Homo sapiens: one gene and its partner. The protein of the gene in region 1 binds, or shares a complex with, the protein of each later gene. Each region holds a gene or a part of one and is shown on either strand. Other genes may lie near its edges. The genes, in order: PLOD3 and COLGALT1. A codon is read from its position in the direction of its gene.

The links.
Region 2: the proteins of PLOD3 (region 1) and COLGALT1 are in contact, whole or in part, in a cryo-EM structure (PDB 8ZGE), measured with the Homo sapiens proteins. Residues at the interface, in NP_001075.1 of Homo sapiens: Leu226 (codon at 698), Val229, Val230, Leu231, Lys232, Phe233, Asp234, Arg235, Arg241, Gln261, Tyr264, Leu265, Pro275, Gly430, Ala431, Leu432, Arg440, Glu442, Glu446, Arg452; in NP_078932.2 of Homo sapiens: Ala36, Tyr37, Phe38, Pro39, Glu40, Glu41, Arg42, Trp43.

Annotation. Positions count from the first base shown.
Region 1 is NC_000007.14:101,214,395-101,222,271, forward strand, and holds the start of PLOD3 (multifunctional procollagen lysine hydroxylase and glycosyltransferase LH3 precursor), read right to left. Parts: upstream 3,188-7,877; 5' UTR 2,881-3,187; coding exon 2,772-2,880; intron 2,393-2,771; coding exon 2,301-2,392; intron 2,153-2,300; coding exon 2,016-2,152; intron 1,933-2,015; coding exon 1,769-1,932; intron 1,627-1,768; coding exon 1,514-1,626; intron 759-1,513; coding exon 695-758; intron 1-694. Other genes in the region: ZNHIT1 (zinc finger HIT domain-containing protein 1), read left to right, coding at 4,025-4,091. UniProt on the Homo sapiens protein: Multifunctional enzyme that catalyzes a series of essential post-translational modifications on Lys residues in procollagen. Plays a redundant role in catalyzing the formation of hydroxylysine residues in -Xaa-Lys-Gly- sequences in collagens.
Region 2 is NC_000019.10:17,579,607-17,583,802, reverse strand, and holds the end of COLGALT1 (procollagen galactosyltransferase 1 precursor), read right to left. Parts: coding exon 4,194-4,196; intron 3,105-4,193; coding exon 2,898-3,104; intron 2,627-2,897; coding exon 2,359-2,626; 3' UTR 646-2,358; downstream 1-645. UniProt on the Homo sapiens protein: Beta-galactosyltransferase that transfers beta-galactose to hydroxylysine residues of type I collagen. By acting on collagen glycosylation, facilitates the formation of collagen triple helix. Also involved in the biosynthesis of collagen type IV.

The DNA of each region.
Region 1 (7,877 bases):
TGTTGGGATTACAGGCGTGAGGCACCGTGCCTGGCCTCTCTCTCTCCCCGTTCTCCCCATCCCCTGAGGCAAGTCACCAACCCCTCCACAAGCTGTTTTCCTCATCTGTACAAGAAGGATAACCAGGGACCTTCCCTTTGTTAAATGGAATCACAGAAGTAGACCGGGCACAGTGGCTCATGCCTGTAATCCCAGCACTTTGGGAGGTTGAGGCAGGCGGATCACCTGAGGTTGGGAGTTCGAGACTAGCCTGGCCACCATGGTGAAACCCTGTCTCTACTAAAAATACAAAATGAGCTGGGCGTGGTGGCGCATGCCTGTAATCCCAGCTACTCGGGAGGCTGAGGCAGAAGAATCACTTGAACCCGGGAGGTGGAGGCTGCAGTGAGCCAAGATTGGACCACTGCACTCCGGCCCGGGCAACAGAGCGAAACTCTGTCTCAAAAAAAAAAGTCCCTGGCCCGGTGCCCAGGCACAGCATGTGTGCAACAGATGCCAGACACGTTTTTGCTTCCCTTGCTTCTGGTAGTACCATCAGCACAGTGCAACTTACACAACCAGCCACTCAGACGCCTGACAAAACCACATAGAGGTGGGCTTGGATCAGCCCAGCTCCTCCAGAAGCCTCTCCCAGCTCAAGACCCCTAGCTGCAGAGGCTGCGCATCGCCCACCTGCGGCTGTCTTCCTCCTCACCTAAAGCCCCGTTGAGGTTCTGAAAGATCCGAGACTTATGATCCAGATTAAGGCTGAGTTTCTCCTAAATGGAATGAGATGCGATGGAGTGGTTAAAATGGAAGGAGTGGAAAGGACATCATTTCTCACTTTTCTCTCTCTTTTTTTCTTCTCTTGCTTTTGTTGCTTAGGCTGGAGTGCAATGGCACGATCTCAGCTCACTGCAACCTCTGCCTCCCGGTTTAATTGATTCTCTTGCTTCAGCCTTCCAAGTAACTGGGACTACAGGAGAGTGTCACCACGCCTGGCTAATTTTTGTATTTTTAGTAGAGACGGGGTTTCACCATGTTGGCCAGGCTGGTCTCAAACTCCCAATCTCAGGTGATCCACCCGCCTCAGCCTCCCAAAGTGCTGGGATTATAGGCATGAGCCACCATGGTTTTCCTTTTTTTGTGAGAGACAGAGTCTCATTCTGTCACCCAGGCTGGAATGCAGTGGTGCAAAACATCCTCAAACTCCTGGGCTCAAGTGATGGTCCCACCTCAGCCTCCCAAGTAGCTGGGATTACAGGCGTACACCATGAAGCCTGGCTAATTTTTTCTTTCTTTTTTTTTGTAGAGATGAGGTCTCAACTATGTTGTCCAGGCTGGTCTTAAATTCCTGGACTCAAGCAATCCTCCTGCCTAAGCCTCCCAAAAGTCTTGGATGACAGGCGTGAGCCACCACGCCCAGGCACACATTTTTCTCTTTGCAACCCCCTTTGCTCCCCAAATCCCATTCAGCCTGAGGCCTCCACTCCCACAGAGCTGCGGGATGCGCCCACTCCTCTGCCTTCCCTACCCTCAGTCCTGGGTCCAGGTAGAGCCGTGTGTAGAACAGCTGGTCGTCGTCATCATCCTTGTACTTCCACTGGCGCACGATTTGGTGGATGGTGGTGGCAAAACCGATGAATCCTGGCGGGGAGGGGGAGTGTTGACCTCGAGACTCCCAGGGTCCCAGGGCCTGTCCCCCAGGCTGTCTCCAGCCCTCAGGCGCCTTTAACACTCTGTGTCCCACCGCTCTTGGCCCCTCTGCCTTGGGCACTCTGCCACTCACCACCAGAATTGAGGAAGCGCTTCCCCGTGCCCACCTCAGGGTACTGCTCCGCCAGCCCCCACTCGGGCCAGCAGAAGCTCTCTGCAGAGAAGAGCAGGCGGCTGCCACTCTGGACGAACTTCTTCAGCAGCTCTGTGGGGCTGCCGGCCAGAATCACGTCGTAGCTGGGTGAGGAAGGGGAGGATGGGCAGGGGTCCACTGGGAACCTCAGCATCCTTACCCCGCTCCCTATCCCCAGCCCCGTTACCTATCCACAAACATGATGATCATATCCTCCCGGTCAGCGTATTTCTCCATTTCCTTCTTTAACCACCGGACCTTCTGTCCTCCACCAACTGTTCGAGCCACATCACCCCCTCGCCACTCCTCTCCCAGGCCCAGGGTCTGTGGAGAAGATTGCCCCGTGCCAGGCAAGGGGTGGGGAGTTGTGGGGGGAACTCCTGACCAGGCTTACCGTGGGGACCTGGGCATCCAGACTTCAGCCCACCCCTCCTGCTGGGACCCCCTCCCAGGGGCCTTTCCCTCTCCTCACCCGCACAGTGTAGTTGAAGAACTCCGCAGAGCGCAGGAAACGCAGGTACCCCTCGGTTTCAGCTGTGGCCACAGTGATCACCAGCAGCTTCTCTGTTACCAGAGGGAAATGGCACTTGAGATCCACCGCCCAGCTCCGGGCCTCACGTGCTTTGCTGTCCTCCCTCTCACTCGACTTCCCTCCCTTTCTTCCTTCCCATTCTTAAACTCTTCTCACCCAGGAACACTCTGACCCCAAGGAGGGCAGGGTGGGAGTGGTGCCCAGGAATTCCGAGTCCCTTTGCATAGGGAGGCTGGAAACCCCAGTTCAGGGTAGTGATGGGCGAGGGGCTTGGCGCGACTCAGCCTCAAGAGCACGCTGGGCGGGGGACGGGCCAGACACCTCCTCGAGCCTCCGACCCTCTCCGGGCCAGGCTGGCAGGCACGCCAGCCTCTGCCCCCTCGGCCGTGCCGGGCCTCCCCGGGATCTCACCTGGGTTGACCGGGTCTCGGCCCCGGGGCCGGTCGGAGGCTGAGGCCGCAGGGGGCAGCAGCAGCGGCAGCAGCAGCAGGAACCGGGGTCCAGGCCCCGAGGAGGTCATGGTGGGGAGCGGGCCCAGACAGCACCCAGGATCCTGGGATCTCCGCTACGCGCCTGGATCCCAGCTCCGGAGGGGAGCTCTGGAAAGGGGGCGCTCGGGCTGCTGTGCGGCCGCCGCGGGGAGCAGCTTGGCTGGGGCTACGCCCTGAAAAAAAGGCGTATCCGGAGGCTACAGAAAGCTCCAGATGCCGGCGCCACAGACAAGGCGAGGATTGTCCCGGGCGCACGGGAGGCGGGGGAGGGGCGGCGGCTCGGGCCGGCGGGCGGGAGACAGGGACTCTGGGCTGAGCCAGCCGCTTGACACATGTGGAAGCTGAAACCTGGACAGGGGAAGTGACCCCTGGCGGAGGGTCGGGCGGGACGCGGGGGCGGGTCCTGGCCGCAGCCCTGCCCAGAGAGTGCGGGCGGAAGACGGGGAGAGCGAGAGGCTGGCGGCGACAGGGAGGGAGGAAGCCTAGGAGTCCGCCGCGGGACGGAGGCCTGGGGGAACTGGGAGTTCAGCTTTCTGCAGAGGGCCACTAGGAACCTCGGATTGCCCACGGAAGCCAGCCACTTTCTTTGACAGTCCAGCCCACCTCCTCTTCTGCCCGGAGAAGCTCCAGGGGCTGCCTTTGTGATCACAGCATCTTCACAAGGACCAAAGGAAAATAAGATTTCTTGTAAGAACACCGTGACCACATCTTTAAAATGACCCATTTCGTGGCTCCCACAAGATTTACACCTCCACACTGAGGCCGGAAGTGGTTTTGCCCCTATAAAACATGGCGAAAAGCTTTCTTGTCTCCAAGGAAACGCCACGTAATGAGTCAAAGCTGTGGCGCACGCGCAGAAGTACAAGCTACCGGAAGTGATGGCGCCCCTACTAAAGCCTTGGGGTTAGTACGCGTGCGCAGCAGTTTCTTCCGACAGTTGTGTTGTGCCAATGGTGGAGAAGAAAACTTCGGGTATGTGAGCCCCCGCGGTTCGCCCCCTTCCCCTTCCCAAGTCAGTCCTAGAATTTTCTTACCTAGTCATTCCTCTTTTTTGGTCTCGCTCTTTCGCCTAGGCTGGAGTGCAGTGGCATAGTCATAGCTCACTGCAGCCTCGATTTCCTGGGATCAAACCATCCTCCCACCTCAGCCTCCGGAGTGGCTGGAACTGCAAGCATGAGGCCCCACGCCTGGTTAATTTTTAATTTGTTATGTGGTGACGGGCTCTCGCTATGTTGCCCAGGTTGGTCTCCAACTCTTGGCCTCAAAGCGATCCTCCTGCGTGGGCCTTCCAAAGTGCTGGGATTACAGGCGTGAGCTGCCGCGCCCGGCCCCAGCTATTCCTCGTAAATCCCTTCCTCAGCCCTCGGGTCCTGGCGTTGACCCTTCATTCACGTTTTATTGGTGCCTGCTCCAAGCCGGGCGCTGGGGATGAAGAGGAGAAAGACCCCTCTTATCCAAGCATTGGCTTTTTCTGGAAGGGGGGCAGAAACGCAGACCTAACACTGTATTTTACTGTGATTTGTGATTTGTGCTATGGCAGAGGGAAGCACAGCGCCTGGGAACAGGGAGACGTGGCATCTAGCCCAGGTTCTGGGAGGCAGGGGACTGTGAAAGCTTGAAGGAAAAATGAAAAAGCTTGAATTGAGTCTTGAAAGTCTAGTTAGGGTTTCTCTCAGTGGGAACCTCACGTGCAAAGGCAGTGAAGCAAGAAAAAGCAAGTCGCTTAGGAAGCCAAGTTCACAGTTTGGATCTTACAGAGTAATAAGAAAGGATCGAAGGCTGGGGAAAGGTTACATTTTGAAAGGCATTATACACACTGCCCAGGAGTTTGAACTCTGTAGGGAAACACTGGAGAGCCAGCAAAGACTTTTTTTTTTTAGACAGAGTCTTGCTCTGTCACCCAGGCTGGAATGCAGTGGTTCTATATAACTCACTGCAGCCTCAACCTCCCATGCTCAAGTGATTCTTCCACCTCAGCCACCTGAGTAGGTGGAACTACAGGTGGGTGCAGGCCACCATGCTGGGCTAGTTTTTATATTTTTTGTTGAGATGGGTGTCTCACTATGTTGCCCAGGCTGGTCTTGAACTCCTGAGCTCATGTGATCCTCCTGCCTCGGCCTTCCAAAATGCTAGGATTACAAGTATGAGCCACTGCGCTTGGCCCTTTTAGTTTTTCTTTCTTTCTTTTTTTTTCTTTTTGAGACGGAGTCTTGCTCTGTCCCCCAGGCTGGAGTGCAGTGGCGCAATCTCGGTTCACTGCAAGCTCTGCCTCCCGGGTTCACACCATTCTCTGGCCTCAGCTTCTGGAGTAGCTGGGACTACAGGCGCCCGCCACCACACCCAGCTTATCTTTTGTATTTTTAGTAGAGACAGGGTTTCACCATGTTAGCCAGGATGGTCTTGATCTCCTGACCTCGTGATCCACCCGCCTCGGCCCCCCAAAATGCTAGAATTACAGGCATGAGCCACTGCGCTTGGCCCTCTCAGTTTTTCAAAGGCATCGCAGTCTCCCAGCCATCAGTTTTTTCATGTTGGCCTCAAGGTCTGAAATACCCCGCTGTCTCCCCTAGCCAGGTCATTCACCAGTTAGGCCTTAACCTAGACTTACCTTCTTCTGGGAAGTCTTCCCTGACTACTCCAAGGCCAGGTTGGGTGTTTCTGTCCTGGGCTCTGCAGCACTTTATACTTCCGTATCCTAGCCTACTCCATGCTGTACTTACTGTGTTTGTTTCATTAATCATTTGTGTTTGCCACTGGACTGTAAGCTTTGGCATCCCTAAAACCTAGAGCACTGCCTGGCATTTGGAGGGGAGACAGAGTAGTACAGTGATCATAATCATATTTTTTTTTGTTTGGTTGGTTTTGGGTTTTTTTTTTTTTTTTTTTTTTTTTGAAACAGGGTCTTGCTCTGTCACCCAGGCTGGAGTGCAGTGGCACAAACACAGCTCACTGCAGCCTTGAGCTCCTGGGCTCAAGCAATCCTTGCGCCTCAGCCTCCTGAATAGCTGGGACTACAGGTGTGTCCCACTACACCTGGCTAATTTTTGTATTTTTTTTGTAGAAACATGGTTTTGCCATGTTGCCCAGGCTGGCCTCGAACTCCCGCGCTCAAACAATCCACCCACCTTGGCCTCCCAAAGTGCTGAGATAACAGGCATGAGCCACTGCGCCTGGCAAGGTCATGCTTTTTGATGCTGGGTAGTTCTTTGACTCCTGACCTGGCCACTTGTTAGCTATGTGAACTTTGGACACATTTCTTAATCTCTGAATGTTGGTAAATTGGGGATGATGATACTGTCCCATACAGCTGTTGTAAGGGTTAAATGGTTCAAGTGTTGCAAAGAGCTGAGCACGTGCCTGGCTCATAGTAAGTGTCCAACAAGTGATAGCTACTGGGGCTGCTGCTGTTATTATTATGCTTAACAGGTGGTTAATGAATAAAGAGATATATTATGCAAAATTATCAGAATCTGGCAAACAGCTGATAAGGCAATGAGGAAAGAGGTTTTTTGTTTTTTGTTTTTGAGACAGGGTCTCTCTCTGTTGCCCAGGCTGGAATGCAATGGCGCGATCTCAGCTCGCTGCAACCTCCACCTCCCGGGTTCAAGCGATTCTTGTGCCTCAGCCTCCCGCGTAGCTGGGATTACAGGCATGTGCCACCACACCCTGCTAATTTTTGTATTTTTAGTAGAGACATGGTTTCACCACGTTGGTCAGGCTGGTCTCGAACTCCTGACCTGAAGTGATGAGCCCACCTCAGCCTCCCAAAGTGCTGGGATTGCAGGGGTGAGCCACTATGTCCAGCCGAGGAAAGAGGTTTAAAATAACTTCTAGGTTTCTGGTTTGGATGTCTGCATAGACGGTTCCATTTGCGTAGAGAGAATCTGCAGGAGAAGCAGACTTGGATGGGAATTTTTTTTTTTTTTTGAGTTGCAGTGTCCACAGGGCCAGTGGGTGATTTCTTTTTTCCTTCTTTCTTTTTTTTTTTTTTTGGAGACAGTCTTGCTTTGTCACTCAGGCTGGAGTGGTGGCGCGATCACGGCTTGCTGCACACTGCAGCCTCAACCTCCCGGGCCCATGTAGTCCTCCCACCGCAGCCTCCCAAGTAACTGGGACTACAGGCATGTGCAACCACGCCTGGCTTATTTTTTAATTTTTTGTAGAGATGGGGTTTGGCTATGCTGCCCAGGCTGGTTTCTAACTCCTGGCATCAAGCGATCCTTTGGCCTCCCAAAGTGCTGAGATTACAGGCGTGCGCCACCACACCCGGCCTCACCAGGCGCTGGCTGCATGGCCAGTTCTGGAGCCCGGGAGCAGGTTCTGTGTTGAGGGAGTCACTCTGGGAGTCATTTGCTTGTGGGTGATCATCAGAGCCCTTTGTTTGGAGTCAAAATCCCAGGAAGAGTGCATAGACTGAGCAGAGAAGAGGGCCAGCCACCTCCATAGAGGCAGGGAGAGCAGCCGAGCTGGAGCCGGAGGATTCCTGGACATGGAGAAGGCCTGCAGTTTTGTCAAGGAAGCAAGCAAAGGGTCTCTTTCTACTCGATGAAGGTAGTCGGCACCGCCACAGGGTGGACAGGGCTCAGGTCCAAGGAGGAGGAGGAAGGCACACTGGAGCCGCTCTGGGGCCCAGAGCGTGGGTGGGTGGTCCCCCAGGATGACCAGGCAGGTGTCAGATTTTGGGGTTCAAGGAGAGGATGGGAGGTGAAAAAGTGACACATCACGTGAGTTGCTGTGAAGGAGAAGGAGCTGTGAAGCCGAGTAGACACATGAGCGTCGCCAGCTCTTTGATGGAAAGTGCCGGTTGAGGAGGAGGGGTTGAAGATGGGAGAGGGAGGGAATGGGCTGGAGGTGAAGGCTCGGGGTCAGTGGTGGGACTTGGGGCGCTCCAGGGCAGGGGTGTGCCCACTTGGCATCACGTTTGTGGGTAGGTGGCCTGGAAGATGAGCGTATCCAAGCATGGGTGGCCCCTGGTTCCTTTGAGGTAGGAGGTGAGATGCTGAGTGTGAGGGCCATGTGTATTGAG
Region 2 (4,196 bases), on another chromosome or scaffold:
CATGCCCAGCCCTAATCCTCATGTTGAGGTCTGTTTTAGGGGGACTCAAAGCACGACAGCCCCTCTTTATTCGAAGTCATGTGGAAGGATCCTGAAGTTGACTCAAGACAGAGCTGTCGGTCCCCCGCCTGTTTGGGGGAAGTTTTATGGCATGAGGGGACACAGGGCTCTTACCACACCCTCACCCCACAGTAGCTCCACTGGCCAGCTTTTTTTTTTTTTTTTTGGTTTGATTGTGTCTTGCTCTGCCGCCCAGGCTGGAGGGCAGTGGCTCAATCTTGGGTCACTGCAACCTCCACCTCCCAGGTTCAAGCGATTCTCCTGCCTCAGCCTCCCAAGTAGCGAGGATTACAGGTACCCCCCCCCCGCCACCCCGCCCCACTACACTAGGCTAATTTTTGTACTTTTAATAGAGAGGGGGTTTCACCATGTTGGCCAGGCTGGTCTTGAATTCCTGACCTCAAGTGATCCGCCCACCTTAGCCTCCCAAAGCACCGGGATTACAGGCATGAGCCACCATGCCAGGCCCCACTGGGCAGCTTCCCTACTGCACCTGCCCTGGTTTCCTCCCAAATCTTGTCGGCCATCCAGGGGTGGGGAACGTGGGCAGTGTTTTGGTGCCGAGCAAAATCCCACAAACTGCTGTGAAAACCAACCAGGAACATTTATTAAAAAACTAAGCAAGTTATCCCCAAGAGGGTGAAGCACCGCTGGCTGGTTCTGACATTCGATTCAGGCTGAAGGCACGGCAACTCCTCCAGCCCTTGCTGGGAAATGTCCTACCCAGGCCACGGGCAGTGCCCCAGTGCAGCTGGGTCCCCTAAAAGCCCCCAAACACATGATCCCACCAAAGGCTTGAACAGAGCAACTTCATCAAGCAGGCAGGGACCACACCTGAGACACAAGGGCAAGGAGGTAAAGCACAGGGGACCGGGAGTGGGCCAGGGACACCCAGCCCCCGTCTCCAACTGGCGCCCCCTCCAGGGGGGCTAACATGTGGCGTGGGGCCACCAGGACCTGTGCTTGCCCCTGGTGGCGGAAGAGCTACCCTCCCTCTTGGGTGGTGGGGGGATGTTGTCTGCACACAGCTCAGACGACCGAGGGTACAGGAAGAATCAAACTCAGTCAACCATTCTTCAACCCAACTGGGAGTCTGTGAGGCCTGGCACACAGGTGCTCAATAAACACTTGTGGCATGAAGAAGTGAAGGAACCGATCTTGTTCATCTCTGTGCCCCAGCACTCGGCATGTAGCCCATGATCGAAAATGCAGACTGAACAACTGTCACACTCTTTTGTATCACTAGTGCCCGGCACACAGTCAGTGCTCTTCAGGTGTGTGGGAAAGAAGCCAATGAGTGAGAAGTTCCCACACCGTCTAGCAGTGAGGAAAAAAAGAAAAAAGTAAAAAGTACCTTGTTTACTCCCATTCCCATCCCATAGCTCAGCTCCCTGCACACAGCAGGTGCTCAGTAAGTGTACCGAATCAGGAACTTATCTTTGTGACATGAGTGCCAGGCACACAGTAGGTGACCAATATGTGCTTGAATAAATGGATAGAAGCATCTTATTTATCTCAATATTCCCAGAGCCTGGGCTGGGCACAGTGGCTCATGCCTGTAACCCTAGCACTTTGGGTGGCCAAGGCGGGCAGATCACTTGAGGTCAGGAGTTCGAGACCAGCCTGGCCAACATGGTGAAACCCCGTCTCTACTAAAAATACAAAAACTAGCCAGATGTGATGGCACGCACCTATAGTCCCAGCTACTTGGGAGGCCGAGAAACAAGAATTGCTGGACGCTGGGAGGCGCAGGCTGCAGTGAGCCGTCACACCACTGCACTCCAGCCTGGGTGACAGAGACAGACTCTACTCTTAAAAAAAAAAAAAAAAAAATCCCAGAGCCTGGAATGGCACCCAACACACAGTAGGCACTCAATAAATCCTTGAATGAATTTTAAAAATGAATGTGTATCACTAGTGCCTGATTCTTAATCTGATCAGTAACTGCTTGATGACTGAATCAATCGCTGATGGAGGGAACAATTATGCCTCATTCACTGCCGTAACATGGGAACCTTGCATACAGCAGGTGCTTAATAAATGCTGGGCACATGAACAGATGAAGAGGGCTTGGTTCCTCCCAATTCCCCAGGGCCAAGCCCTGTTGCTGGCATGCAGTAGGCACTCCATTAATGCTGCCTGTGTGCACGTGATTGCTTAGCAAGAGCTGGCTGGACACCACCCCACACGAGAGCCCTCTGTGGCCTGCCAAGGGGTCCAGAGGTGGACCTGATGTCCTCAGTAAGCACGTGGAGCCTGGGCCACCGATGGCTGCTTTGGCTTTCTGGCTGCTACCCCTCAGAGTTCATCCCGGGCAGCACTGTCCAGTGGGGACTGGAGCACGTCCGAGTTCTTGGCCTCACGGCTCAGTGCCTGCTGCTCCCGCATCTTCTGGGACTTGGCGCGGTCCCAGTCGGTCTTGACGTGCTCATTGTTCCATACGACTGAGGTCTCGGTGTCACTCACATAGCCATCGTCTCCTGTGTAGTGTGTGGGGTAGATGAGCAGCGGCTCCACAGAGAAGGCATGCAGGTTGCGGAGGGAGAAGTGGGCCTTGTACTCGGACCTGGGGGGAGGAGGAGGGGAGTGAGGGGCAGCAATGGCTTCAGGGGACGGGACAGCTGGAGGAAAAATTGGGGGTGAAGAAGTCAGCGGGGACAGATTAAAACGTAAGTGTGCAGGGGATACAAATGGAGACAGATCTGCGAGGGGGCAAACGGAGGGAGAAGTAGGCAAAAGAAGAGACATCTTCTCGGAGGCCGTGAGTCTCACATCCCCATTCTCCCAGGACAGACCCACCGTGAAACCCCAGCCCAGCAGCCGCCTGCCCCTCTCACACTGGGTGTTTGTCGAACATGACGGGCAGGAACTCGTCCACAGGCAGCATCTTGGAGAGCGGCTCAGCAGCCAGCAGTTTGCGGGCGCCTTGCAGGGAGATCACGTAGGCCAGGGTCCAGTAGGAATAGTCGGCCTCCACCAGGTTCCTCACGCGAGGCACAGCCTTCTCGGGGTGCTCCACCTGCATCCGCTTCCGGCCCACATAGCTGGGGTGCAAGATCGGGCCTGTCACTCTCCTCCCGCCCTCCGGAGGGAGCTTGCCCAGAAAGCCAGGGATCTAGTTACCCCGTCAGGTCCTGGGATGGGAGCAGGCTCAGCATGTTTGCAGAGCTCTGTGACTGGATGGAGTGAATGCAGGAGCCCAGGGGTCTGGCGGTCATGGGGGAGAAGAGTGAGTTTTTCCAAAGGGCGTGAGGGAGCCATGGAGGATCTGGAGCTGGGGAGAGCAGGATCACGCAGACGTTCTCTGAGGCTGAAGCTGCTCTGAGTTCAGAGGACAGTGGGGGTGGAGGTGGGCGAGGTGCCCTGATGGGGGGGCAGTCAGGAATGGAGGGGTGCAGTTACTATTCACATGGGGCAGTGTTCCCAGAATGCAGATTAGGGCACTGCACATGGAAGGGAAAAAAGAGATGGAGGAAGGGAGAGGACAAACCAGCCCACTTACAGAAGAGAAGGACGGCTCCAGTGCTGGAAACATGTTGGTGGCACTCCCATCCAGGGGCTTGTCTAAGACCAGGCGCCCTGGCCACGCCCCCACACTCTTCGGCCACACCTCCAGCTCTGACCACACCCCCATGCTCTTCAGCCACGCCCACAGGCTGCCCGGTCAAATTTTAGCCACATCCACCTCCACAGGCCTCAGTCAAGTCTCTAAGCCTTGACCAAGCCTGCAGGCTTCCGGCCAGGTCCCTTGAGTTCTGGGTGATCCTTCCAACGCCCTTCCCTATAGGCTACAGCCCTGACAGTGCCTTCAGGCCCAGGAACCACGTGAGCCCTCCTGCTACGCTTCCAAGGGTTGGCCACGCCTGCCACCCTGACCACACCCAGACATACAGGCTCTAGGCTCAGCTGCAGCGCTGTGGCCACGCCCGTAGGATTCAGCTCCACTCCGCCTCCCAGCCCCACCTCTAAGCCCTGGCCATGTACCTAGGCTCCAGTTCCACCCCACCTTCAAGCCCCGCCTCTAAGCCATGACCCATCCCCAGGTCCCAGCTCCACCCTGCCCCCACCCCCACCTCTAAGTCCTGGCCTTGCCCCAGGCCCCAGCTTCACCCCATCCTCAGACCCCCACTCACATG